7 linked regions of the Homo sapiens genome follow. The protein of the gene in region 1 purifies or fractionates together with the protein of each later gene. This does not show direct contact. Each region holds a gene or a part of one and is shown in the gene's direction. Other genes may lie near its edges.

Region 1 (3,563 bases):
TCTAAATGTCTATGGAAAGAAGGCTCAGGAAGGAGAGGAGGTTGTAGAATGAAGCCACTGAAGTTTTCCGGGCAAATACTGCCTGGCTGAAACCCTACCAAGTTATTACTCTCTTGACTGTAGGCTGAGTCATGCCAGGTGACTTCCTGAAAGCTGCTGTTGCTCCTGATGCTTCACCGCCGTTGTACCATGTGGCACACATCACCACATCACAAAGCATTTTGGTTGCTGAAGTCCCCATAGGGCCTAGGAGAGCTTTGTGGTGTCCATCATTATATCCTCAGGATCTAGCCAAGTACCCATTTCCCAGAGGAATGAACAGGCACCAAATTCTCCATCTACTGTGATGAGTTTACCCTTCAGAGTCTTTCTTCTTTCAGCAGGGACCGGAACCACCTTACCCTCTCTGCATCTCCCACCTCTTATGCTGAACAGCTCTCCCAGGTCAAGCCTCAGGGGTCTGCCCTGGTTTATTTACTAGTTCTGAGGATCAGTGTCCTAATAAGCAACCTCTTAAGAGGATCAACCCAGCTTTCTTCACTGAATCTTTTCATGTTGTCTTTGAGGGATCTCACAGGGCGCATTAATGAATTCATTTTACACATTCAGTTCTACCTTAGGTACTGGTCTGACTGTCTCAAGTCTCACATTGTCTATGGCATAAACCTTAAGAAACCCTGCCTTTGTCTTTCACAGTGGTCATCTCCATCAGAGGCAACTGAAAGTTTCTTATCAAAAGAAATTTGGTTGCCACCCCCACAGTTCTACGAAGTGAGAAGACTTGCAAACTTTGCCTCTCTCTCTGACTTGCACAAATTTTGTTTGGGTCGTGCATTAGAAGGACTGGAAAGGTGGCTGCCGATCATCTTGTTAACTGCTGATGGGATGGTCCATCTTTTACCAGGTAAACCAGTGAAGCATCGGTGCTTTTGTTAGTATTCACATTCAGTGCCCTGGGCTGCATGGCTGTATTGCCCAACGTAGAGACAGGAATTACAGTCTGTGTTTTGTAATCTACAGGGTATTAGCTAAGTAAGATCAAAGCCTATAAAATATCCATATTATTATAACCAGAAATTCTGCATAATGTCATATACATACACATACATTTATATTAATATATTTCCTAGACATTGACAAAGGTCTTTCTCATATAATTTCTCACTTTTTTTTTTTTTTTCTGAGACAGTTTCCCTCTGTCACCCAGGCTGGAGTGCAGTGGCACAATCTTGGCTCACTGCAACCTCCACCTCCCAGGTTCAAGCAATTCTCTGCCTCAGCCTCCCAAGAAGCTGGGATTACAGGTGCCCACCACTGTGCCCGGCTAATCTTTGTATTTTTTTTTTAGTAGATACGGGGTTTCACCATCTTGGCCAGGCTGGTCTTGAACTCTTGACCTTGTGATCCACCCGCCTTGGCCTCCCAAAGTGCTGGGATTACAGTCATGAGCCACCATGCCTGGCTGATTTCTCACTTTTTTGCATTTTAAGTTTGAATTACGAGAACTCGTAAGTTGTCATCTAATTTGAATTAGGGAGCTTTTTTTTTGAGACAGAGTTTTGCTCTTGTCACCCAGGCTGGAGTGCAATCTGGGCTCACTGCAACCTTTGCCTCCTGGGTTCAAGCGATACTTCTGCCTCAGCCTCCCGAGTAGCTGGAATTACAGGCATGTGCCACCACGCCTGGCTAATTTTTTTGTATTATTAGTAGAGACAGGGTTTCACCATGTTGGCCAGGCTGGTCTTGAACTCCTGACCTCAGGTGATCCGCCCGCCTCAGCCTCCCCAAATTCTGGGATTATAGGCATGAGCCACTGTGCCCAGCCAACTTTGTTTTTTTTTTTCAGTTGGACATAATTTCAATTGAAATTATGAATTATGAAATTATGAAGAAAATAAAGTAAAATGTTAACTCTATCTCAACTGAAAATACAAAAAAAAAAAAAAAAAACAAATTAGCCAGGCATGGTGGCACACACCTGTAATCCCAGCTGCTCAGGAGGCTGAGGCAGGAGAATCACTTGAACCCAGGAGGTAGAGGTTGCAGTGAGCCAAGATCATGCCACTGCACTCTAACCTGGGCGACAGAGCGACACTCTCTGTCAAAAACAAAACAAAACAAAAGGCTGGGCGCGGTGGCTCACACGTGTAATCTCAGCACTTTGGGAGGCTGAGGCGGGTGGATCACCTAAGGGCGAGAGTTCGAGACCGGCCTGACCAACATGGAGAAATCCCGTCTCTACTAATAATACAAAATTAGCTGGGCATGGGGGCGCATGCCTATAATCCCAGCTACTTGGGAGGCTGAGGCAGGAGAATCACTTGAACCCAGGAGGCAGAGGTTGTGGTGAGCTGAGATTGCGCCATTGCACTCCAGCCTGGGCAACAAGAGCGAAACTCCATCTCAAAAAAAAAAAAGATTTATTACTCAACCTACAGTGGGAAAATTTAGCAGTTTTGATGGAATTTCTCTAAATTAACCTGAAGATGATAAGAACAGCCCACTTTGAAACATCAAAAGTATATGAATATCAAGGCCAATCTTAATATCAGTATTGAATAGAATAAAGAGAGTCATGAACTGGTATAATAGTTACAGTTCACAGTGGAAACATACCAGTCACAGATGTTTATGGGCCCAAAGAAAACTCTTGGCTGGGGTGTTGTAAGGGGATATTAAAAACACAAGAAAGAGGACAGGCGCAGTAGTTCACGCCTGTAATCCCAGCACTTTGGGAGGCCGAGGTGGGTGAATCATTTGAGGTCAGGAGTTTGAGACCAGCCTGGTAAACATGGCGAAACCTGTCTCTACTAACAATACAAAAATTAACCAGGCGTGGTGGCAGACACCTGTGATCCCAGTTACTCGGGAGGCTGAGGCATGAGAATTGCTTGAGCCCAAGAGGTGGAGGTTGCAATGAGCCGAGATCGCGCCACTGCACTCTAGCCTGGGCAACAGAGTGAGACTCCATCTCAAAAAACAGATAAAAAAACACAATAAAGAAATTGAGGTAAGCTCATAGAATTAGATTAGTTAACAACTATCTCAGTTCCAAACATATTAAATAGATCAAAATAAATACTGATTTAACAACTATCTCAGTTCCAAACATATGAAATAGATAAAAATACTGATTTGTATTTCATTAGTATATTGGAGTGATTTATAAAATAATACTCGATGGAATTAAAATTTTATACTTTCTGCCATGGTGAAAAATAATTTTGTATTTAAAAATAAAATCAGATTTTTTCCTTTTTCAGGTGATGAGCTATATTTAGAAGATTCAGACTTTTTGGAAAATCTTATGTCTACTGAAAAAAAGACTGAGGAAATCATGAAGGAAGGCAAGCAGTTTCACCGGATAGTGACATACCATCGCCACCTTTATGATATCCACGTGACTGTTCAGCCAAAGTATAAACACGTTTATCCTAAGAACTCTGTAGTAAGAAAAAGCCATTTGTAGGGTGCTTAAGCTTGTTTGTAAAATGGCCTACTTGAAGTCCTCATGAATAATGAGGGTTGACTTTCATTTGCTTGAAACTTAAGGAAGTTTGTGC
Region 2 (3,913 bases), on another chromosome or scaffold:
AGGGGCAACACCTGTGGAGGAAACAGGCGGGGTTGGGGCCCACCAGCGTCTGCTGTCTGCTCTGTGCTGGGTTGCATCTGTTGGTGTCTGATCGTTGTCAGGGCCCTGTGGTGAAGAGACACACCTGCCACTTGCTGCTTGCGAGGAAAGGGGGAGATCCCCAACCCAGGAGCCAGAGGTGGGACTCCAGCACCCCCCATTCCTGGGAGTTGGAAGTGAGGCACGAGCTCCCCAATTCCTGGGCATCGGGGATGGGGTTTGGGGCCGAGGAGGGGATGGAGACCAGGGTCTTGTGGTAGTTTGGTGGGATCCTCAGAAGGTGTGGCTCTCCCCCTTCTGAGGACGCAAAAACTCCCAGAGTTTTTGGCGATTGATGTGCCACGTGTGCCTTGTGCCCTGTGCTGGGCGAGTGTAGGCACAGCTGTGCAGACGACGCCCTTGGCAAGGCTGGAGCCTGGACCCCTGCCTGGCAGCAGCTGGGCGAACTGGTGTCTTCTGCCTGTGGGCCCAGCTTCACTTCACTAGCTTAGCGCTCCCTCAGGAGGGAGGAGGGGAGGCCTGGTCAGTGGAGGTCACCACTGTGTTTCCTTCTGTGTGGGTTTATAGTCACGTAGCATCTAGGTTCAGACCCGAAGAGCTTGGAGCCAGGGGCTGGGGGGAACAGGGCAGGACCGGCCTTGGGGCAGCCCTGTCAGGCCCACCAGTGCCATGCTGGTTGTGGGTTGGCAGGGCAGAGTGACCTTAAGAAGGGCCAGCTCAGTGGAGCAACAGGACAGAAGCTCACATGGGGTCCAGCCCACAGGACCATTTGAGTAGCTCTCCCATATCGGGTCCTTCGAAGCACATGATTTAGCTTTACTTTTTCTCCTTCGTATTAGAAAAGTCACCATAATACCATCAAGTCATAATTTCTGTGATCTCAGTGCTTCAAGTAGGTGTGTAGCAATTGCTGGATGTGTCCTGAGAACTGTACCCCTTCCACCCTGGCGAGAAGCAGGGGCCAGAAATTCACACAAGTGGCATGGCTCATTGATTGTGGGAGACTCTGGGGGGCTCCTAGCTAGTGCATTATGGGAACCAGGCTGTGGAGGTTGCAGGGCTCGCTGGCTGGGAGAAGCTGAATGGATAAAGAACCCTGGCCACTGCAGTGCGTGCTGATGGTTGGCTGGCACGTAGAGGAGGTGGCAGGGCTGGGTGAGCAGCAGGAGCCAGGTTAGTGGGGAGGCCCGAGCTAAGCGCAGGGGCAAATTCTGCGGGTGGGAGAGCCAGGAGGGCATGGGGTGCATGGTGAGATGAAAACGATGTGTGCTTGTGACAAAAAGCCCAGAAGAGGCAGTAAGGAGGGAGGAGTCTATCCCTTATGGAGAGCACATGGACTTCTGGGTGGGTGTCCTGCAGTTCCCTTCCTCTTGAGTCTTTTTAACTGGGGGTCCGGTGTGTTTGTGATCAATGACATGTATGCGTGTGCATGTGTACCTTTGCAGGTACACATGTGTGGTGTGTGTGCATTTGCTTGGTGTGCGTGCATTTGTGTGTGTGTTTGTGTGTGCATGCATGTGTGTGTGTTTGTGGTAGGTTTGTGCACACATCCTGCATACCTTTGTGCCTGGGAGTGGCATGTGTGTGGTGGGTGTCGCTGTGCATGATGGAGTTGCAGCCGTGGTGCATTTGTGAGATTACCTCGGTGGCCTAAATTGGGGATTAGGAGGGCATCCTCAGGTCCTTCCCACTGTCTGCTCGTCTGCCCACAGGCGGCTGTGCCCTAAACAGGAGGAGGCCATTCACGCCTCGCCTGAGTTGTGTCCAAGGTGTGCGTGTGGCCAGGGGTCCATCCGCTTCCCTCTAGCCCAGCCCCTGAACACAGCTGCAGTGCACGGCCCCACTCCTCAGCTCTGCTCCCCATCCCAACTCGAAGACGCTGCCCTGGCCCTGTGTGTGCAGCTCATGTGGACTGGGAGGGCAGGGCAGGTGCAGGTCTTGGGGCAAGAGCTGGAGCTGTCTTTTCCTTCCTGCACAGCCGCAGAGCAGGTGGATGGGGCTGCTTCCCTGCAAGGGCCCAGGGCCAGGCCCCCTGGGGATTTATTCGTGGCTTAGAAGGGTGGGGCCAGAAGCAGGCGTAGTGGGGATTAGGGACTCAGCACCCCCAGCTCTCAGTCCAGCAGACAGACCCACCCCAGGCTGACTACAGAGGCTGCACCTCAGCAAACAGGTAGGCCCTGTTCTTGGGGAGGATTCCCACCAGGCAAAGGCCAGCTCCCGGGCCCTCACCTGCCACGTGTCCAAGCTAGGATCCTGTTTGCCTTTCCCTTGGGGGCTGGGAGGGAGGCCTCCAACCCCCTCTGGCATTACCAGCATCACAGATAGGAGTCCCAAGTCCTATGAGAAGTTCCTGGAATAGGTGTAGATTCAGTAGATCTTTACAAGACCATATCTGCAGGGCAAGGTACCAGAGGACAGAGGCGGGGACAGGGACACTTCCATTCCAGACCTAGCAGCCCAGCACTCAGCACCATGCATGGGAGCAAATGGCTGGACTCCTGGGTGGGGTGGGGGTCTCAGAGCAGGCTCCCAGAGGGCTTGGAGGTGACTCCACCAGGTGGGGACGGCAGCTCCCAGGTAGGGTGTCATCAGAGTAGACAGCATTGCTTGCTAGGGACCCCTGGGGAGGCTGACAGGGTCAGTGGGTTTCAGTTGGGGGGCTCCCCTGCTGAGAACCCAGTAAAGCCGGCCTTCCATTCGTCTCCCGTGTGCCCAGAGCCTGGTCTGAGGGCCGCCCTGTGCATGCCGGCCCTTCCAACGTGGCAGAGCTCAGGGGGAAGAACACCCAGGCTCTCAGGAGACTCTCAGGCCAATGTCTCCATCCCTGGGTCAGCCCTTTCCTGCCATGAATTCAGGAAGGCAGAGGCAGCTCAGCAGATGGGGACTAGAGGCCGCACTGCTATCCACAGCCTCTCTTCTCACCCCCAGGCATGTCGGGCCCCAGGCCTGTGGTGCTGAGCGGGCCTTCGGGAGCTGGGAAGAGCACCCTGCTGAAGAGGCTGCTCCAGGAGCACAGCGGCATCTTTGGCTTCAGCGTGTCCCGTGAGTCCAGGGCTCTCGTGGAGGGGTGCGTAGACCTCAAGGCTGCTGAGTAGTCCTAGCACCGTGAGCAGGCCAGGAGCCCAAACCCAACAGGCACACCCACCCTGCAGACTGTCCGAACTCTTGCACACTCCCCCCCACACAGAACCTGAGGTTATCACACTCCTGCTGTCCTGCGTGCCTGTGTCTCCCTTCCCTGGGTCTGTTGAGTACTGATAACTGGGCCACAGTGTTTCTTTCTGGGAGAACCCTCGCCTTGTAGGCTCCTGCGCCTTCCCAGTGGTGTGCTTCACTGGCTGCCTGCATCCTGGGGCTCAAGTGCTGTCGGGACTGCAAGGGAAACGCTGGGTGGGGCATTGGGCTCCGAGCAGCCCCCGATGGGTGACAGGTCTCTCTGCTAGATACCACGAGGAACCCGAGGCCCGGCGAGGAGAACGGCAAAGGTGAGTGGGGTGGGGCCCTATGGCTGGAGCACCCCCAGTGTGGGCAGGGCTGCTGGGCCCTGCAGCTGTGTTGGCTGTGCTGCCCGTCTCCTGCCCCCATCAATCCCTAATCTGTGAGATGGGTCCTTGCCTCCAAGGGCCGGTGAACTCAATCAGGGTGTCAGCGCCACAGCGTGGTGTCGCCTTCCTTGGGTACAGTGTGAGAGGCCGGCCAAGGCCTGGGGCTGTCTTCCTCCCACCTTGGAGGCGGCCACAGTGCTGCTGTCCCCAGCCCTGTCCTGGACTCGGCACTTATCAGCACTTTTGAGCTGTCTTCTGGAGTCCTGGTAAAAAGGGCTACTCTGCCTGCCTGATTCAAGACAAGGGACCCCCTTCCCAACAGCACCCCC
Region 3 (4,327 bases), on another chromosome or scaffold:
TTTTTAAAAGGTATTCATTAAACATCTTCCTATTTTCCATCTACCCAGTCCCTACCCCCACCCAGAAACTTCTAAATAAATATGAACTCCTGATATTTTAATGTCTCTTTTTTTAAAAAATTAAAAATTAAGTGTAAGAATTTTTTTCCTAATTTAGGGGTTGGTTATATTGGTTTCAGATAATCAGATATAGCTATATATATATACATATGTATATATGTATAGTATTAGAATTTTGAGTTCTCCATGCTTGTTATTTTGCTGAAAAGAAGTACCCAGAACACCTGCGTGTTTTACTCAAAAAAGATAATGGGTGTTTATGTTACTTGCATTGTGGTGTTTTCCTTTGCTGAGCATGAAATCCAGTGGTTATCACAATTTCATGACTTACAAGCTTGAAAATCAAGAGTCCTGGAGCAGTTCCATAATACTCCTGTCTGCCCTGACCTTTTTGTTTACTGGAGCTGTTGTCCTCTCCCTCTGCAGCATGGGAATCATTGTGCTGGAGCTGTACTGGAAGCATGCTCCAAAGACCTGTAAGAACTTTGCTGAGTTGGCTCGTCGAGGTTACTACAATGGCACAAAATTCCACAGAATTATCAAAGACTTCATGATCCAAGGAGGTGACCCAACAGGGACAGGTACAGTTAAGCCAACATTAGTTTATGTTTTCTTTTTTTTTTCTCCTTTTCGTCTTTTTTTCTAAAGCCAGCATTAGTTTCTGAAGTCTCTGTCGTAAATAGGTGATAAGGCAGCCAGAGCTCTCTTTTCCACTTACTAAGGTCTGTGTTGGTTGATTCTGGTGACAACGCCTGCCTTCCTCAAACACACATGTGTGGAATTGACCAGAAACCAACCTTTACTCCTAGGCTTGGTAGAGTTTTTCATAACTTACATGTACTGCTCACTAAGAACAAATAATATTTGTCTGAATTATAGTGATGCAAGTAGTCTGATCAATAAGAAGGAAAGACTTTATAATATTTTGAGAATAATAAAATCCTGGGTTCTTTTATCGATTCATTCATTTAACAAATACTGAGTACCTGTTTTGTGTCAGATACTTTTTTAAGCTCTAGGGAGATACCTATAAACAAAGAGACAGAATTATTGCTCTCAATAAAGCAGGAAAAGGGTGTGGGGATGGAATTTTAGTAGAAAAGTCAGGGAACTCCTCTCTGACATTATTGGAGAAGAGATCTGAATGAAGTAAGAAAGTGAACCTTGCAACTGTGGGGAGAACATTTTGGATGGAGGGAAGAGCAAACACAGAGGCCCTGAGGCAGGAACCTGTGCTGGAAATCATAAGATATGATACCTTATAGGGCATGGTAGAGACTGGGTTTTATTCTGAGTAAGATGTGATGTGAGTCATTGGAGAGTTTTGAGCAAAGGAAAGACATGATCTGATCTATGCTTTAAAAGGATCACTCTAGGCTGGGCACGGTGGCTCACGCCTGTAATCCCAGCACTTTGGGAGCCCGAGGCAGTTGGATCATTTGAGGTCAGGAGTTCAAGACCAGCCTGACCAACATGGTGAAACGCTCTGTCTACTAAAATACAAAAATTAGCCGGGCGGGTTGGTGGGCACCTGTAATCTCAGGTTCTTAGTCGGGAGGCTGAGGCAGAAGAATTGCTTGAACCCAGGAGATGGAGGTTGCAGTGAGCCAAGATCGCACCACTGCAGTCCAGCCTGGGTAACAGATTGAGACTCCCTCTCAAATAAATAAATAAATAAAAGGATCACTCTAGCTGCTGTTTAGAGAATAGATGTAGGGGCAAGATGTAAACACTATGTAAATAGTTGTTGTACTGTATTGTTTGGGGAGTAATGACAAGAAAAATAGTTCTATACATGTTCAGTACAGATGCTTCCCCCCAAGATGTTTTCAGTCGCGGTTAGTTGAACCCATGAATGTAGAACCCACATGTAGGGAGGGCCGACTATGCTCATGAGTAAGTAGTTGGATAGGAATATGGGGTTCAGGGAAAGACCTGGTATGGAGGTATTAATTTGGGAGTTACTGGCATTTAGATGGGGTTTATTAGTGAACTGGTGGAACCCTTACTCATTTCAAGGGCCCTTGCTTCTCAGTCTGCTTCTTCTCTGCTAATTTCTGCTCGTTTGCCTTTAAACAAGTTTGGTTTTCTCTATAGCAGAGTCTTTTCTCAGTCTTGTTCTTTTTTGTCATTCTTAATCGTCTCATGATTTATCATCTATGGTCAGAAGCATTCAGGTTTTTGGGTTTTTTTTTTTTTAATGTATATGGATGCATTTCAAAATACAGAATATATAAGAAAGCAGAGAAAAGGGGAAAAATCATTCATAAGCATAGCTCCTAAAGATTTCTAACCATCATTAACTAATCCCTAAATATCCCATCTTTCAGAAAGGAACAGTGTTAACTTTTGGTGCCCATCATGTCTGGTTTAAGGGATGACAGGATAAATGGAAGTAGTTTCAAAAAAATAGGATATATAAGCTATTGTTTTTAAAACAGAACATATTACATTTAATTTCATATATATAGAACAGAATATTTGACTTCCTACAGTGAAAGATGAGGCAATTAGTACTTAAATTTCTACCCATTCTTATTTTTCCCCGACCTTAATTTTTGTTGTTAGTTTTATTATTATCTGTTCTGCACTCATCATTCCTTCAGCTACAGTGTGGGTCCTACGTTTCAGTGTATTTAGTGTTCACAACTTGCTTCGCTTTTACCTTCGCAAGTGCTGGAGGGCAGGATTTCTTGTCTAGTGGTTTTTTAGTGTTTTTTTTTCAGAATGCTCAAGAATCACAATTGTCCAGTGGTTTTTTGTTACAAGAGCTGGAATGTGTTGTATTTTTAAGTTCATTCATGTTTCAGAATTTCTGCCTGTTACTTTTATACTTGAAAAGAGATAGCATGTTGGCATGCTCAGCCCCCTCACTGTGTGATGCACTGTGCCACTTTGGGACTTCACAGAGTCCCCACCAGCAAGAAGGCTCTCACCAAATGTGGCCACTTGACCTTGGACTTCTCAGCCTCCACAACTGTAAGAGATAAATTACTTTTTTAAAATAAATTTTTTAGGCCAGGCATGGTGGCTCACACCTGTAAGCCTAGCACTTTGGAGGCTGAGGCGGGAGGGTCACTTGAGTTCAGGAGTTCAAGACCAGCCTGGGCGACATAGTGAGACCCCGTCTCTACAAAAAATAAAAAATTAGCTGGGCATGGTCGCATATGCCTGTAATCCCAGCTACTGGGAGGCTGAGGTAGGAGGATCACTTGAACCTGGGAGGTTGAGACTGCAGTGAGCCATGATTGTGCCCACTGCACTCCAGCCTGAGCGACACAGTGAGACACTATCTCTAAATAAATAAATTAAAATAAAATAAAAATATTTAAAAGGAAGAAAAAAAGACCATAACTGGGTATAGCATTCTGAGATCTTTTTAGACATTTCTGATCAATTGCCTTCTGGTTTGGTTTTTTGTTGTTGTTTGTTTTTGTTGTTGTTGTTGTTGTTTTTGGAGACAGGATCTTGCTCTGTCACCTAGGCCCAGGCTCGAGTACAGTGATACAATCATGGCTCACTGCAATCTCCATCCCCTGGGCTCAAGCATTTCTCCTACCTCAGCCTCCCGAGTAGCTGAGACTACAGGCATTCACCAGCATGCCTCACTAATTTTTAAATTTTTTATAGAGTTGAGGTCTCACTGTTGCTGAGGCCGGTCTCAAACTCCTGGGCCTAAGTGATCCTCCTGCCTCGGCCTTCCAAAATGTTGGGATTACAGGCATGAGCCATCATGCCTGGCTGCCTTCTCATTTTTGAATATGGTTTTGGAGAATACTGAGGCCAGATTTACTCCTTCCTTTACATCAGGGTTAATTTTTTGATTTCTATTTCTGAATATTTTCTCTGTTATACTTACTGGATTTTCTATTTCAGGAAATATAGTTATTTGTTTCATCACCTTTGCCTTCCATATCTATCATATTTCTTTTGATTGTGTGATAGGATTTTTTTTTCTTTTTTCCCTGCATTCACTAAAATAATCTCAGACCTTTACTCTGTGCCTTACTCAATTTTCAGTCATTTTTATTCTGTTCTTTACTGCTCTAATTTATCTACTAGCTCATTACTGATGCCATTTGAATCTAAATTTGTTTCCTTCACTCTGCAATCTTTTCATCTTATTCTGTGGTGTATTATCTTGTCTTTGAGCTTTTGTTATATTATATTTTTACTTCTCTTGAATCATCCATAGCTTGAGATAGCCATGGAGAAGCCACTTTCTCCCAGGCTGAGTTCCTGGGTTTTCTTTTCCTTTCTCCCCTCC
Region 4 (4,327 bases), on another chromosome or scaffold:
GGCCTTTACAGTTGTCATCCTCACCAAAACCCATGTAAAGTAGGTAGTGGTTTCCTCACCACACAGCAGAAGAAACAGCTTAGAGAGATTCAGATACTTCCTCATTTATTAGCCACACAGCAAATAAATGATAGGTCTGTGTCTAACCAGATCCCGTAATAGGTTAGCCTGCTTCTGGATATTTTGTTCTCAAATATTTAAGAACATCATTCTTGCAGACTTATATAATATATAATATTAATGTGTACTGTCTTAAAGGGGAAGTAAATTATAGTATAACTTAATCTGGGTTGTCAAAATTTCTGACATACAGAAGCCTATACATAGGATTCTTAAAGTTTTACTGTGGGTCTTGTGAATTTTTAATAGAGCTTGGTCATGTACATGAAACTGCTTTTTACATTGTCCTTTTGCAGTATTTTATAAGCTTAGCCTAATGGTCAAGAGCACAGAGTGGTTAAGAGATCCTGTCAGAATCCTAACTCCACCCCTTCTTAGCTATGTAACTGTGGACGGATTATTTACCCTCCGTATGTCTCAGTTTCTACCATAAGAAATGTGTAATAATTGTACCTACTTCATGGGATTCTTGTAAGAATAATGTATGTTAAGCATTTAGGGCAGTGCCTAGCACATAGTGAGCACTCCATAAACATTACCTATTGTTATTATTGTAGTTGCTATTTTTATTGCTGTGTTTTATTGTTAAATTTCTATTCCATATTTTTAATGTACACAATATTTTCTATAGATTGTATTTGCTATAATTTTCTAATTGGGGGGTATTGTATATAATTTTTAAATCTCTTTCACCTGTATAGCTTTCCAAATAGTTCATATTTGACATTTAGTATGCTTTTTCAATATATCATATGAATTATTTTTAAATAGAGTGAGTTAGCTTCTGTTGTACTTAGTATTTTTTTATCTGACTGAAGTAACTCTTATAATTATTTTAATTCAGGACATGGCCCAGTAATTCATAATGCTGAAGCTAAAATTCAACAATACATTTCTCACAGAAATATTCGAGAGCAGCAAATTCTTACATTATTTCGTGAGAACTTTGAGAAATCATTTACAGTAATGGAGCTTGTAAAAATTATTTACAAGGTAATTTTCAGTTTTCTTATTTGTATGTAGCCACAAATTTATTAGAATTATCTATTTAGTAGACTATAGAAATGATAAACTTATATCCCAGATCAGAAGTTACGCCACTTTTCTAGATTTGAGACCAGCAGCCTAAACTTTCTACAGTGCTAAAATTAAACAAAAACTGGCCTTAGAGAACAAAGATAGCCATTTCGAGCCATCATTGAACTTTATATACTTAACTATGTAGGAGAAACTGCCTAACTATGTAGGAGAAACTACCAACAGCCTGATGATTACATTTTGTAATAATTTTTGCATTATTCTAGCCATCTTGATTATCTTGTGTCCCAGCCTGCACCAAGAGAGGAGGGGTGACCTGCTAGACACAAATATTGGAATGTTAACAGTGAGAAGTAGTAGCAAAGCAGTGAGAAGTAGTAGCAATGCCAAACAATGGAGAAAAAGAAAAAAAAAATCAAAGAACATGAGTAAAATAGTATGTAGGGAAAGAGCCTTACACCTCACTGGCCTCTGAGAATATCACTGTATTGACAGCACTATATAGCAGTCAGTATAATTCAGTTTTTCAGCAAATGTTTATTAGATGTCTGCTGTGTAGGCAGCATAGCTTAGAGGTTAAAAATGTAAGCTTTTGTGGCCAGGCGTGGTGGCTCACCCCTGTAATCCCAGTATTTTGGGAGGCTAAGTGGGAGGTTTGCTTCAGCCCAGGAGTCCGAGACAAGCTTGGGCAACATAGTGAGACCTCATCTCTACAAGAAATTTTTTAAATGAGCCAGGTGTCATGGAACATGCCTGTGATCCCAGCTGCTCGGGTGGTTGAGATGGGAGGATCACATGAGCCTGGGAAGTCAAGGCTGCAGTGAGCCTACATCGCACCGTTGCACACCAGCCTAGGTGACAGTGCAAGACTGTATCTCAAAAACTTTTTTTTTTGAGATGGAGTTTTGCTCTTGTTGCCCAGGCTGGAGTGCAGTGGCGCCATCTTGGCTCACCACAACCTCTGCCTCCTGGGTTCACGCGATTCTCCTGCCTCAGCCTCCCGAGTAGCTGGGATTACAGGCATGTGCCACCATACCCAGCTAATTTTGTATTTTTAGTAGAGATGGTGTTTCTCAATGTTGGTCAGACTGGTCTCGAACTCCCGACCTCAGGTGATCCACCCGCCTCAGCCTCCCAAAGTGCTGGGATTACAGGCATGAGTCACTGCGCCCGGCCCAAAAACTTTTTTAAAAAAATTAAATTTAAATTAAAATATACAAAGATATTACCCTGTAACCTAATAAATAAATTACAGGGCCAACTGTCTGTAGCATCATGAAAACTTTCTAAGAATAATTTTACATTTATTCATTCATAAAATATTAATGTGTTTCTGCTATGTATTATTATGCTAAACACTGAATATTCAGTAATGAACAAAACAGATACTGCTGCCAGGCCGGGCATGGTGGCTCACGCCTGTAATCCCAGCACTTTGGGAGGCCGAGGCGGGCGGATCACCCGAGGTCAGGAGTTCGAGACCAGTCTGGCCAACATGGTGAAACCCCATCTCTACTAAAAATACAAAAATTAGCGAGGCATGGTGGCACACGCCTGTAATCCTAGCTACTCGGGAGGCTGAGGCACGAGAATAGTTTGAACCTGGGAGGTGGAGGTTGCAGTGAGCCGAGATCGCGCCATTGCACTCCAGCCTAGGTGACAAGAGTGAAACTCTGTCTCAAAAAAAAAGATACTGCTACTGTCTTTATGGAGCTTACAACCTATTCTATCTATAGGAGTATATATAGAATATAAAACAAGATGTATACAAAGTGAAATTGTTAAAAATGTCAAACAAGTTAAAAATGTGTTTAAGATAGGCCAGGCGCAGTGGCTCACGTCTGTAATCCCAGCACTTTGGGAGGCCGAGGCAGGTGGATCACAAGGTCAAGAGATCGAGACCATTCTGACCAACATGGTGAAACCCCGTCTCTACTAAAAGTACAAAAATTAGCTGGGCGTGGTGGTGCTCGCCTGTAGTCCCAGCTACTCGGGAGGCTGAGGCAGGAGAATTGCTTGAACCTGGGAGGCGGAGGTTGCAGTGAGCCGAGATGCACCACTGCATTCCAGCCTGGCGACAGAGTGAGACTCTGTCTCAAAAAAAAAAAAAAATGTGTTTAAGATAAACTTTTGCTACATTTTGCTTTTCTTCAAAGCTTTCAAAAAATTAACTGTGTTCTTTTTTTTAAAAAAAAAGGAATTTTTTTCACCTTCATTTTTCTTTTAGAATACTCCTGAGAATTTACATGAAATGGCTAAACATAATCTCTTACTTCATTTGAAAAAACTAGAAAAAGAAGGAAAAATATGTGAGTATGCTTCCAAATTTTCTTCTATTACCAGCATTTAAAATATTTTTACAGATGCCTTAGTTTCCTTTGAGGAAAAATAATACCCATCAGAGTTCTCCCATGAATATCACTTTAAGTTGGAGAGACAGGCGCTAGGAAGGTCAGTAGCACAGGGCCAGTGGACCACAAGCTGGAACCAAAAGCTCCCAGGGGAATTAGAATCTCAGTTGGAATTCCAATCCTTACCCACCAGAATGGCAATCAAAGACATGTAGCAGGAAGATAACTTTTCTTCTCCCAGACCCAAAAACCACGAAGAATTTCACATGTGGTAGATTTGGGAACAGCCAAAGGTTTTAAACAGTGGTAAAGGTAGTAAACTTAGAGATGTCAAAGCAGTAATTATGTAATTATTTTCTAGTGTTAGTTTGTCAAACTAATAATCTTTATAGAAATGTAATCCTTAAAATCCAGAATTCTAAGCTTGAATTTGATGTAGAAGCCTTAGCAATGTTTTTACATGTACCAAAAATACCCAACTTTATATTGAGCAACAAAATTATTTTAAGAATGAATGCTTTTTCTAGCCACAAGGTAACTTAAAATTCAGTGCATTTACTTATCTATTGTTAAATTTTTACTCTCTGATTTTCTTTTTACAGTTAGCAACACAGATCCTGACAAGAAATGGAAAGCTCATCTTTAGTTTCAGATTAAAGAAAGCTTTGTTTTATTTTGCTTTCAGAGAATGGTATGTTTTCTTAACTATAGGTTATTTTATAGAGAATATAAAAGTATAAAACATTAAAAATAACCCTAGATATACTTTAAAATAATGTTATATTTATGCTAAAATATGTAAATTACACTATACAACC
Region 5 (3,491 bases), on another chromosome or scaffold:
GTTTTGTTTTGTTTTGTTTCTTGAGACAGCCTTGCTCTGTCGCCCAGGCTGGAGTGCAGTGTCGTGATCTCAGCTCACTGCAACCTCTGTCTTCCAGGTTCAAGCAATTCTCTTGCCTCAGCCTCCCAAGTAACTGGGACTACAGGCACACGCCACCACACCTGGCTTATTTTTTGTATTTTTAGTAGAGACGGGGTTTTACCGTGCTAGCCAGGATGGTCTCGATCTCCTGACCTCATGATCCACCCACCTCAGCCTCCCAAAGTGCTGAGATTACAGGCATGAGCCTCCACACCCGGCCTAGCTGAAAGATTTTTAAAAACCTAAATATCCACTCATAAAGAACTGGTTGAATAAATTATGCTAGATCAATACAACTAAAGTAATGTGGAAAGATCTCCGAGGTAAATTGTTCCATGGTAATAAAACCAAGATGCAGAACAACATGCACAGTATGCTACCATGTGTGCTTGTGTGTTTAAAAATATGTAACATAAGCATTGACTGTACCTAGAAGGATATACAATAAATTAGGAACAGTGGTTACCTCTGAGGAGGGAAACTTGGGAGAGGGAGAGAGGGGTGAGAGATATCTTTACACGGTATATGCTTTTTTAATAGCTTTTGAGTTTTTTTGTTGTTGTTGTTGCCATATCCATGTATTACCTATTTAGAAGATTATTTTAAAAGACACAAGAATATAATGAAATATTGCATTGTGACCAGCAAAGTGGGAAGAGTGAATCCAAAAAAAGATAAATGTTTTTCCAGAAGCCAGTGTCTCCAACTGTTATATAATTTACTAATATTGTTTTTTTGAGAAAAAGGAAAAAGAACCCTTTGAAGTCAAATATTGCTTTAAAAGAAAATATGTTTTAATGCTTACTAGCTCATCCTTATCCTTGACGTGATATCGAATGAAGAACACCAGAAATTATTTCTGTGGACATTGGCTGAACAATTAACACATTTTAGCACTGAAGAAGGAACTTCAACCTAGTCTTTTTACGCACAAAAGGAGACAACATTTTCACCATATATCAGAAAGACTCATTCTATTAAAGGAAAGCCAAGAAACACACTTGTAAGCGAGTAGGGAGGATTTTTCTGCAACATAGGCTATTTAAGGAGGTATTAGTAAAAGATGATTAATTGAATTTAATTAAAGCTTTAAATCTAACATCAGTGACTTAGGCCTTTCTTGGCTTGGTTCACAGGCTCTTAAAAACATGGGTGAAATTCTGAAAGCTGCAGGCTGTGACTTCACTAACGGTGAGCAATTTGATATTATTTCACATTTCTTTTTGATATTTCTTTGGTCTTTTTGAAAAATATATGGCATCCAGTAAGATGCCGTGCCATATCTTTGTTGCTATTTAAAAGTTGTTTTAAATAGCAACTGTTCTACTTCACTTCTTTGGTCCCATTTCAGTCCCATTTTAATCAAGACAGTCTCAGATTCATACACTCTTTTTCTAAGTAATGTTTTGGGTCAGACCAAATAACTAAACCTAATGACAATGTTTATATCTTCTAGTGGTGAAAACAACTGTTCTTCTGGCTGACATAAATGACTTCAATACTGTCAATGAAATCTACAAACAGTGTAAGTAATTTGGCTTTATTCCTATTTTCCATTTTTAAAAAGAAAGAAATCTGGTCACATTAATGAATGTGCATTATGAATTAAGAGTGGTAGGAGATGCTAAAGAAATGGTCATAGATCTTAAAAGAATTAATAATCTGATTGGAAATATGTTGTATACCCCCCATGAAAAAGTTCTAAGACATTTCTATTGCATTCCCTAAAACAATATACTGAAATCCTACATATCCATTTTTCAAAAGCTTAATTTCATTAAATCCTTCTCAGGCTTTTTAAACTCTCCTAACAAGTTTTTTATGCATAGATTTTATTTACTGTGGCTGTATGGTGCAGCCACCATCTTTATCCTGGCTCTCTCAGACTCATTAGTTAGTTACTTAATATTTCTATGCCTTGGTTTTCTCATATGCAAAATGGAGATAATATACTCCTAACTTATAGGGTTGTTGGAATGATTAAATGAGTCAGTACAACATGTAAAGCACTTAGATGCTGGTGTGTTATAAGCACTGAGTAAATGTTAGCTATTATTAACATTGATGTTATAGTAGGGAAAATTGGTGTCCCCAACACCTAATGGGATGAGGCAAAGGTATAACTTGGAAAAAGCATCGTTACTTATTCTCTCCTGAAGAAATTATTAGAAAAGACCAAAGTTGGCAGAGGAAGTACTTGCCAAAATTTCTGGAGATGGGCACTTGTTCCCTATTTAGATAAATAGTTTATAAATATCACTTTAAAAACAAAACTCCATTCACATCAAACAAGATCAAAATGTTAGGGTATGTATTTCTTTTTTTTTTTTTTTTTTTTTTTTGCCAGAAAGCTAAGAGATTTTAAAAAGTATTAACTATCATAGGAATCATATGGCAAAATATTTTATCAAACAAATCTGATAGTGAGCCTCTTTTTTAAAATGTTGCTTAAGGCCAGGAGCAGTGGCTCACACCTATAATCCCAGCACTTTGAGAGGCTGAGGTGGGTGGATCACTTGACATTAGGAGTTTGAGACCAGTCTGGCCAACATGGTGAAGCCCCGACTCTACTAAAAATACAAAAATGAGCCAGGCATGGTGGTGCACACCTGTAATCCCAGCTACTCGGGAGGCTGAGGCAGGAGAATCTCTTGAACATGGGAGACAGAGGTTGCAGTAAGCTGAGATCGCATCACTTCACTCCAGCCTTGGGCGATAGAGCAAGACTCTGTTTCAAAAAAATAAAAATAAATGTTGCTTATATCTAAGAACTGACTAGTATATGAAATATTTGCCAGATTATTAATTGTAGATATTGAATAACAATAGAATATCTGAAAACTAAAATAAAAATTTTCACTTGATCTTTATTTTTTCAACTCTTCTCTATTAAAAAAATGAAATTCTTTTAAATTCAGATTTCAAGAGTAATTTTCCTGCTAGAGCTGCTTACCAAGTTGCTGCTTTACCCAAAGTAAGTACACTTTAAATGACTAATGTACACAGTTTTCAGTTTCTACATTGTTTTCCTTCTATAAGTAAACTAAGCACTGTGAAAGGAAACTTAAAAGAAGTAGCCTGGGCAGGGTGGCTTACCCCTGTAATCCCAGTGCTTTGAGAGGCCAACACAGGAGGATCGCTTGAGGCCAGGAGTTCTAGACCAGCCTGGGCAACATAGCAAGACAGCCATCCCTACAAAAACAATTTAAAATTAGCCATGCATGGTGGTGGTGCACACCTATAGTCCCAGCTACTTGGTAGGCTGAGGTGGGAGGAACACTTGAACCCAGGAGTTCAAGGCTGCAGTGAGCTATAATCGAACCACTGTGCTGCAGCCTGGGTAACAGTGTGACCTTGTCTCTTAAAAAAAAAAAAAAAAAGAAAAGAAATAGACCCTGCTTCCCCAGGGA
Region 6 (4,327 bases), on another chromosome or scaffold:
ATTATTTTAATAAAATCTTCCTCTGCTGAAGTCACCCTTTGGTAAGCATTCATATGGGACTAAATGTCTTCATGTTTTCTTCATGTTTTTCACCCATTCTGAGAAGTCTACCCACATACTTCTTCCCAAGACTTCCTTGTTACCAATTTTCTAATCATGTTTCTTCTAGGTCCTTGACCATCCAGCCAAACCATTGGCCACAGCCTATGAATTGGTATATAATTATACTTGCCATATCTCCTTTTAAACAGAATGAACAACCAGGTACACTACTTAAAGTTCTGCCCATTGGGAGGATTTTCCTTGACTACTGTCCTTCAGAAATGTCCCAGATTGGTGCTATAGTGATGAAGCTGTCCACTTTGGGTAGTGCCTGCATATTGTGCAGAACTATCTGTAAACCAGCTCTGAGTTTTCTCTTCCTCTGTCAATTCATTGTAGGAAACTCCCCTATGAGGTCATGAGTGCAGATTGGGAGAGAGAAGGCAGTATAGCAGGAGTAGGTATCATGGGCATTTGGGCTACTTTTTCATGTAACTTGTGCATTTAGGGCCTACTTAGGCCCAATCTCATATATACCACTTCCATTGGATGATGGAGTCCTTCCGTGCACACCTGACTTTACTGTATACTCAGGTTGCATGTCAACTTGGTGGCCCATGGCTAAGTGTTCAGTGTCTACTAAGGCCCAGCGGCAGGCCAAAAGCTGTTTCTCAAAAGGTGACTAGTTATTCATAGACAATAGCAAGGCTTTGCTCCAAAATCTTTAGGGTTTGTACTGTGAGTTATCTATAAGGGCCTGCCAAAGGCTCCACACAATATCCCATATTGGCTACTGATACCTAAGCACCATTGGAGCTAATAAATTATATGCTCAAACCATATCAGGATAATGCTGACATAACAGATGGTCTAGCCTGGAAAATTCTCTATGTGCTTATAAGAAGAAAGTGCATTGTGTAGCTGTTGGAGGAAATGTTCTGTAAACATCTGTTAAGTCCACATGATCTGTGGTGTAGATTAAGTCCTATGTTTCTTCATTAATTTCCTATCTAGATTATGTGTCCAATGTTGAAACTGGGGTATTAAAGTCTCCACCTATTATTGTATTGGGGTCTAGCTCTCTCTTTAGCCCTAATAATATTTGCTTTACCTGTCTGTATTAGGTGCACATACATTTATAGTTATTATACTCTCTTGCTCAGTTGATCTATCATTATATAATAACCTTCTTCGTGTCTTTATGTTTTTTATTTAAAGTCTATTTTGTCTGATGTAAGTATAGCTACTCCTGCATGTTTTTGGTTTCTGTTTGTGTGCGATATGTTTTTTTTAATCCCTTCACTCTCATTCTATGTGCTTTACAGAGGAAGTGAATTTCTTGTAAGCAGCATATAGTTAGGTCTTGTTTTATATTCCATTCAGCCAGTCTATACCTTTAAATTAGTGAATTTAATCCATTTACATTTAAGGTTGTTACTGATAGATGAACTTACTCCTGTCATTGTTTTGCTTTAAATTGGTGAATTTAATCCATTTACATTTAAGGTTGTTACTGATAGATGAACTTACTCCTGTCATTGTGTTGTTTTTGGATTGTTTTGTATATCCATTTTGTCTCACATGTCCATGTGTAGAGAGTCCACCAACAGGCTTTGTGTGAGCAAGAAGGCTGTTTATTTCACCTGGGTGCAGGTGGGCTGAGTCCGAAAAAGGAGTCAGCAAAGGGTGGTGGGATTATCATTAGTTCTTATAGGTTCTGGGATAGGCGGTGGAGTTAGGAGCAGTGTTTTGTGGGCAGGGGGTGGATCTCACAAAGTACATTCTCAAGGGAGGGGAGAATTACAAAGAACCTTCTTAAGGGTAGGGGAGATTATAAAGAACCTTCTTAAGGGTGGGGGAGATAACAAAGTACATTGATTAATTAGGGTGGGGCAGAAACAAATCACAATGGTGGAATGTCATCAGTTAAGGCTATTTTCACTTCTTTTGTGGATCTTCAGTTGCTTCAGGCCATCTGGATGTATATGTGCATGTCACAGGGGATATGATGGCTTAGCTTGAGCTCAGAGGCCTGACACATTGTTCCTTTATTTTACTCTTATTGTTTATCCTTGAAATTTGGTGGTTTTCTATAGTAATAACATTTGATTCCTTTCTCATTCTCATTTGTATATCTGCTCTACCAATGAGTTTTGTACTTTGTGCATTTTCATGGTGGTAGATACTGTCCTTTCACTTTCACATGTAGGACCCCATTAAGCATTTCTTGTAGGGTTGGTCCAGTGGTAATAGATTACCTCAGTTTTTGTTTGTATGGGAAAGGCTTTATTTCTTCCTCATTTCTGAAGGATAGTGTTGCTGTGTATAGTATTCTTGGCCAAAAAATTTTTTTTTCCAGTACTTTGAATATATCATCCCATTCTCTCCTGACCTGCAAGGTTTCTGCTAATAAAACATGGTGTTAGTCTGATGGAGATTCCTTTATATGTGACTTGAGACTTTTATCTTGCTGTTTTTAGAATTCTTTCTTTGTCTTTGACTTTTGACAATTTGACTACAATATGTTTCAGAGAAGATGTTTTTGGATTGAATCTATTTGAGAATCTTGAATTTCCTGTGTCTGAATGTCTACATCTCTCACAATACTTTGGAAGTTTTCAGCTATTATTTATTACATAGATTTTCTGTGACTTTTCCCATCTTGTATCTTTCTGGAACTCTCAAAATTCAAGTATTTGTTTACTTTATGGTGTCCCATATGTCATATAGGCTTTCTTTATTCTTAAAAAAGTTTTTTTTATCCAGACTGAATTATTTTAAAAGACCTGCCTTCAAGTTCAGAAATTCTTTCTTCTGCTTGATCTAGTCTATTTTTGAAGCTCTTGGTTATATTTTTTTATTTTGTTCATGGAATTATTCAGGTCCAGGATTTCCATTTGGTTCCTTTTTTTTATAATATCTATCTCTTTATTGAATTTCTCATTCAGATCATGAATTGTTTTTTCTGATTTCTTTGTATTGTCAATCTGTGTTCTCTTTTATATTGTTGATGTTCCTTAAGATCATTATTTTGAATTCCTCTTCAAGCATTCCAATATTTTCTTTTCTTTGGGATCTGTTACTAGAGAATTATTGAGTTCCTTTGGAGATACTATGTTCCCTTGCTTTTTAATGTTTCTTGTGTTTTTGCACTATGTGCATCTGGTGTAACAGTTGCTTCTTTCAATTTTATGCATTGGCTTTCACAGGGAAAGACTTTTTTCTGTACACATATCTCTAGTGTTGATTGGGTAGGGTGCTTTGGCTTTGATTCTGGGTAGGTGCAGTAGTGTAGTCTTCATATGATTTCTTTGGCTGTAATCAATGTCAGTGATGTCTGCAAGTTCCTCAGTGGTTTAGCCTGTGGTTGTTAGTGAAGGCTGTGGTAAGATTTCCTGGGGATAGAGATACCAAGTGGGCTCACCCTTGGGCCCTGGGTGATGCACATGAGCACCAGTATTGGTGACTATGGGCTATGTGGGTCAGTACTCAGTCCTCTGAGTGGCATATACAAACACTGATAGTGGCAGGTGGAGGACCCGAGTAGGCCAGTATTTGGGCTCCCAGGTGGTGTGTGTTGGCCACAGCAACAGGTTTGGTGGGCCAGTCTTTGGGCCCCTGGATGATATATGTAGCATTGGCAGTGCCAGTAGCAGTGGTGGGCCAGCCCTTAGACCCCCAAGTGGCATGCATGGGCGCTGGTGGTGGCAGTAGTGGGCTGAGCTGGCTGGAACCTAGGCCCCTGGGCAGTGTGTATAGGTGTCAATGGCAGCAGTGATAGGCAGGATAAAGTAAATTATTTTACTACTACTTGTTATTTTCAATATTTGGAGTAGTTTCTAGGGTAAACTTTCCTCATACAGAGTTTACATTAGCTTCAGATGGACACATAAGTATGATAAAAAGGAAAAGAACCTAAAATGCTCATTTACATGTAATAAAAACACTACAAATTGATACGATTCTTTGTAGACGGCAGATCATTTTCCAATCATCATTTTGCATATTTTCCCACTTATTTTAAGGACTATGTTATTCTTACTTAATGAAAATATATTTTACAAGAGAAGTTATTGCCAGATGATGCAAATGTATGTGTGTATGAGGAAATTATGGGCTGAACATGGTGGCTCATGTCTGTAATCCTAACACTTTGTGAGGCCAAAGCCAGAGGATTGCTTGAGGCCAGGAGTTTGAGACCCACCTGGGCAACATAGAGAGACCCCATCTCTACAAAAGATTTTAAAAAATTAGTTGGGCATGGTGGTGTGTGCCTGTAGTTCTA
Region 7 (4,327 bases), about 28 Mb from region 1:
CAGCCTCCGCCTCCTGGGTTCAAGCGATTCTCCTCCCTCAGCCTCCTGAGTAGCTGGGATTACAGGCGTGTGCCACCATGCCTGACCCTTTTTGGCAATGTTTAAAAACTGAGATAAAATTCCATAAAGCACAGCATTTTAAGCTCACAATTCAGCTGCATGGAGTACTTTCTCAGAGGTGTGCAGCCAGACCTCTGCTTCCAGAACATTTTCATCCCCTGAAAATAAACTCTGTTCCCATCAGAGTCATTCTCCTTCCCAGCACATGGCAGCCACGCATCCCCCTCCTGTCTCTGTGGATGGGCGTGTCCTGGACATTGCATAGAAATGGGGTCAAACCTTCCCTGTGTGGCCTTTGGTGTCTGGCGTCTCTCACTGAACGTGACGTCCTCAAGGCTCATCCATGCTGAGGCCCGTGTCAGCCTCATTTCTTTTCCTGGCTGAGTCCTATTCCAGAGGGCTCCCTGCAGGAACATGTGGAGCTCAGATCCCCCCGGCTGAAGGAGGCAGGCTGAGGCAGGGAGCCCCTCCAGGCACCAACCAGGATGGAGTCGGGGGTTGGGGGTGGGGCGCAGATTGAAGCCTGTGCAGAATGAGGATGGGGTGGGTGGAGAGGGCACAGATTGGAGGCTGTGTAGAATGAGGATGGGGTGGGTGGGGAGGGTAGATTGGAGGCTTTGTAGAATGAGGATGGGGTGGGTGGGGAGAGCACAGATTGGAGACTGTGTAGAATGAGGACAGGGTGGGTGGGGAGGGTATACTGGAGGCTGTAGAATGAGGATGAGGTGGGGAGGGTAGATTGGAGGCTGTAGAATGAGGATGGGGTGGGTGGGGAGGGTAGATTGGAGGCTGTGTAGAATGAGGGTGGGGTGGGTGGGGAGGATAGATTGGAGGCTGTGTAGAATGAGGATGGGGTGGGTGGAGAGTGCACAGGTTGGAGGCTGTAGAATGAGGATGGGGTGGGGAGGGTAGATTGGAGGCTGTGTAGAATGAGGATGGGGTGGGTGGAGAGGGCACAGATTGGAGGCTGTGTAGAATGAGGATGGGGTAGGTGGGGAGAGTAGATTGGATGCTGTAGAATGAGGATGGGGTGGATGGGAGCGTAGATTGGAGGCTGTGTAGAATGAGGATGGGATGGGTGGAGAGGGCACAGATTGGAGGCTGTAGAATGAGGATGGGGTGGGTGGGGAGGGTAGATTGGAGGCTGTGTAGAATGAGGACAGGACGGGTGGGGAGGGTAGATTGGAGGCTGTGTAGAATGAGGACAGGACGGGTGGGGAGGGTAGATTGGAGGCTGTAGAATGAGGATGAGGTGGGTGGGGAATGTAGATCGGAGGCTGTAGAATGAGGATGGAGTGGGGTGGGGAGAGTAGATTGGAGGCTGTAGAATGAGGACGGAGTGGGAGGGGAAGGCACAGACTGGAGGCTGTGTAAAATGAGGACAGGGAGGAGGGGAGGGCACAGATTGGAGGCTGTGGAATCAGCTAGCTGGGGTAGGAGGAGGAGGAAGGTGCTGGGCAGAGTCCTGGTGGAACTGGCGGAGCTGGTGCAGGTCTGGGCTGGGGACGAGCTAGGCAGGTGGCAGGTGTGGGAGTCTGTGGGGTAGTGGCTGTGGAGGTTTGGATGATGCTATCTCCCGGGGAATGTGTCCCACCAGAAGGGGCCCCAGCTGTTTCCCCTCAGGCAGGTCTTTACCAGCATGTTCTCTGAAGGACCAGCCTGATGGCTCATAGCCTTCTTGGGGTGCAGACATCTGGGAATCAGACAAAAGCTGTGCACTCTCTTCCACCTGCCCGAACACACATGCATCTGGGTCCACAGCCCCTCCCCAAGTCTCCCCAGACACCGCCCGATTCTGCCCCTGCCGCCATCCTCTGTCAGGCTCATGGTTTATGGGCTTATCCCGGCTCCACTCGCCCCACTCATTCTCGTAACCCCACTGCCTAGATCCCAGCTCGATCTGGGCAAGGTCATGAAGGGAAGGAAGCCGTCAGGCCCCCCGGTGGGGAGGGGGTCGGGGGCTTCAGGAATCTTGTCCCTTCTTCCCTGATCCTTGGCCCAGAATGTCTCAGCCCAAACAGTGGGTATTTCTTGAGCCTTTATTTTGTGCAGACACTTTGGAGGGAGAAGTCCAAGCTATAGCTCCACCACTGCGGTCAGGTTAAAGCACGTTGACAAATGGGAGGCAGAGATCAGGGAGTGGCGACGTTTAACTGAAGGACAGGGTGTGATTTGCTGCCTCGTGTGGGTGTTGTCCCGCCGTGCCCTGCGGGGCGCTTTACAAACAGCAGGTGTTTCTGGGGAGATTCTCACCCACTCCATGGAACTGGCTGCATCACAGGCAGGCCAAGGCCCCAGGAGGCATCAGGAGGGTCATTGAGAGGAGATAGGCCCCATCAGCCCAGAGAGACCCTGCAGAGGCCGCCCTGTAGTCTTGGGGAAGCCCACGGTCGCCATCGTCTGTCTGCAGGCCACTGCCCTGCATGGACCCCTGAGTGCCAGCTCCCCAGAGGGCATCTGGGCAGGTGCAGGTCTGGAGCAGTTGGGATGGTGGCTGGGCTCACCTTGAGCCTGAATCCTCCTGTCCAACCCCCACAAAAGCTCCCCAGGGGCATGCTCAGCCCCGGAGACCTGCCACCCCAGGCCTCCTCATCTCAGACAGTGACTGGACCCTCCCTGACCAGGGCTGTTGGCAGTGCTAGGGCTTAAAGAAGAATCTAGGGCTCCCTGGATACCCCCGCCCCACCCATGCACATAGAACCCCAGCCAGGGCTTCCACAGAAATGGCCCCCCTGCTGCCCCTCCATCCCCATCACACTCTCTTCACACCAGAGATGCCATCATCCCCTGCTGTCACCTTCCGACACCTTCTGCCACTCCAGTTCCTTAGAAGCCTCCGTTAGCAGCCTTCTAGAGACCTGGGCAGATGATCCTCCCCACTTCTTAAGTTAACTCCTGTACTTCCTAGTCAATGCCCTCTGAGAAGCCTTTACTGGCCTCTCATTGCCCAGCCCCAGCCCCCGTCGTAGTACCTGGATTGCTGTCAGCAACCAAGAAGCCATGTGCAGTGAATGGACATGGGGTCCTGTCCCAGAGCAGCTCCCAGCCCACAGGGGAGAGAGGCGTGTCTATGAATGAGCTGGAAGAACATTCTGGCACAAAGGGGCCAGGCACAGTGGCTCACACCTCTAATCACAGCCCTCTGGGAGGCTGAGGCGAGTGGATCACTTGAGGTCAGGGGTTCAGGCCAGGCTGGCCAACATGGTGAAACCATGTTTTTACTAAAAATACCAAAATTAGTCAGATGTGGTCGCGGGTGCCTGTACTCCCAGCTACAAGGGAGGCTAAGGCAGGAGAATCACTTAAACCCAGGAGGCAGAGGCTGCAGTGAGTGAGATTGTGCCATTGCCATCCAGCCTGGGCAACAGAGTGAGACTCGTCTCCAAAAAAAAAAAAAAAAAAAAATTCTGGCACAAAAGAAAGAGGGTCTGCTGTTGAGAGGGCCCCATCCATCCTTCCCAGTCAGCAGGTGCTCGTGCTCGGGAATGGCGTCCATGTTGAGAAGCAGGCACGAGACCTGCTGACCCCAGCCCGAGTCCCTGGCGGGGCTCCTTCCAGGGCACACAGACCCAGACCCAGCAGGCCTGGCCTGACTCCCTCGCCCCCTCTTCCTCTGCAGGCCCCAGGGGAAGTCCTATCTGTACTTCACACAGTTCAAGGCAGAGGTGCGGGGCGCTGAGATTGAGTACGCCATGGCCTACGTGAGTATCTTGGAGTGGGGCAGGCTCCGGGTGTGGCTTCTGTGCACTGGGGCAGCTGTGAGATGTCCTGCCACAAGAGGGCTCCATGGGGACAGGGAGGAGAGGGGACAGCGAATCCTGCAGAGGTAGGGTGTGTAACTTGCAGGAACCTGGCACACAGACGCCCCCAGGCCAGGGGCACGGGGGTTTGGTAACCTGTTGCTGCTGGCTTCTCTTGTATATGCCAGAAAAGACTTCTCCAGGCCAGGCGCGGCGGTTCACGCCAGTAATCCCAGCAATTTGGGAGGCTGAGGCAGGAGGATTGCTGGAGGCCAGGAATTTGATTCCAGCCTAGGCAACATAGCAAGACCCTATATCTACCAAAAGTAAAAAAAAAATAGCCAGGCGTGTTGGCATGCACCCATAGTCCCACCTACTCAGGAGGCCGCAGCAGGAGGATCACTTGAGTCCAGGACTTTGAAGCTGCAGTGAGCTATGATTGCACTGCTGCATTCCAGCCTGGACAGTAGAGTGAGGTCCTGGCTCAAAAACAAAAAAGTCTCCTCTCCATCTCTAGTAAAAGTAGA

The links.
Region 2: the proteins of NUDT19 (region 1) and GUK1 fractionate together in Homo sapiens (co-fractionation; one large-scale study listed by BioGRID). This does not show direct contact.
Region 3: the proteins of NUDT19 (region 1) and PPIL1 fractionate together in Homo sapiens (co-fractionation; one large-scale study listed by BioGRID). This does not show direct contact.
Region 4: the proteins of NUDT19 (region 1) and LACTB2 fractionate together in Homo sapiens (co-fractionation; one large-scale study listed by BioGRID). This does not show direct contact.
Region 5: the proteins of NUDT19 (region 1) and RIDA fractionate together in Homo sapiens (co-fractionation; one large-scale study listed by BioGRID). This does not show direct contact.
Region 6: the proteins of NUDT19 (region 1) and GIMAP8 fractionate together in Homo sapiens (co-fractionation; one large-scale study listed by BioGRID). This does not show direct contact.
Region 7: the proteins of NUDT19 (region 1) and MYDGF fractionate together in Homo sapiens (co-fractionation; one large-scale study listed by BioGRID). This does not show direct contact.

Annotation. Positions count from the first base shown.
Region 1 is NC_000019.10:32,708,489-32,712,051, forward strand, and holds part of NUDT19 (acyl-coenzyme A diphosphatase NUDT19 precursor), read left to right. Parts: intron 1-696; coding exon 697-904; intron 905-3,263; coding exon 3,264-3,469; 3' UTR 3,470-3,563. UniProt on the Homo sapiens protein: Fatty acyl-coenzyme A (CoA) diphosphatase that hydrolyzes fatty acyl-CoA to yield acyl-4'-phosphopantetheine and adenosine 3',5'-bisphosphate.
Region 2 is NC_000001.11:228,142,544-228,146,456, forward strand, and holds part of GUK1 (guanylate kinase), read left to right. Parts: intron 1-2,152; exon of another isoform or gene 2,153-2,209; intron 2,210-2,967; coding exon 2,968-3,081; intron 3,082-3,482; coding exon 3,483-3,524; intron 3,525-3,913. UniProt on the Homo sapiens protein: Catalyzes the phosphorylation of GMP to GDP. Essential enzyme for recycling GMP and indirectly, cyclic GMP (cGMP). Involved in the cGMP metabolism in photoreceptors. It may also have a role in the survival and growth progression of some tumors.
Region 3 is NC_000006.12:36,868,032-36,872,358, reverse strand, and holds part of PPIL1 (peptidyl-prolyl cis-trans isomerase-like 1), read left to right. Parts: intron 1-391; exon of another isoform or gene 392-486; coding exon 487-641; intron 642-4,327. UniProt on the Homo sapiens protein: Involved in pre-mRNA splicing as component of the spliceosome. PPIases accelerate the folding of proteins. Catalyzes the cis-trans isomerization of proline imidic peptide bonds in oligopeptides. Catalyzes prolyl peptide bond isomerization in CDC40/PRP17.
Region 4 is NC_000008.11:70,637,688-70,642,014, reverse strand, and holds part of LACTB2 (endoribonuclease LACTB2), read left to right. Parts: intron 1-964; coding exon 965-1,113; intron 1,114-3,385; coding exon 3,386-3,467; intron 3,468-4,111; coding exon 4,112-4,155; 3' UTR 4,156-4,327.
Region 5 is NC_000008.11:98,104,053-98,107,543, reverse strand, and holds part of RIDA (2-iminobutanoate/2-iminopropanoate deaminase), read left to right. Parts: intron 1-1,217; coding exon 1,218-1,272; intron 1,273-1,537; coding exon 1,538-1,606; intron 1,607-2,999; coding exon 3,000-3,055; intron 3,056-3,491. UniProt on the Homo sapiens protein: Catalyzes the hydrolytic deamination of enamine/imine intermediates that form during the course of normal metabolism. May facilitate the release of ammonia from these potentially toxic reactive metabolites, reducing their impact on cellular components.
Region 6 is NC_000007.14:150,460,243-150,464,569, forward strand, and holds part of GIMAP8 (GTPase IMAP family member 8), read left to right. Parts: intron 1-4,327.
Region 7 is NC_000019.10:4,660,103-4,664,429, reverse strand, and holds part of MYDGF (myeloid-derived growth factor precursor), read left to right. Parts: intron 1-2,351; coding exon of another isoform or gene 2,352-2,709; exon of another isoform or gene 2,710-2,724; intron 2,725-3,679; coding exon 3,680-3,761; intron 3,762-4,327. UniProt on the Homo sapiens protein: Bone marrow-derived monocyte and paracrine-acting protein that promotes cardiac myocyte survival and adaptive angiogenesis for cardiac protection and/or repair after myocardial infarction (MI).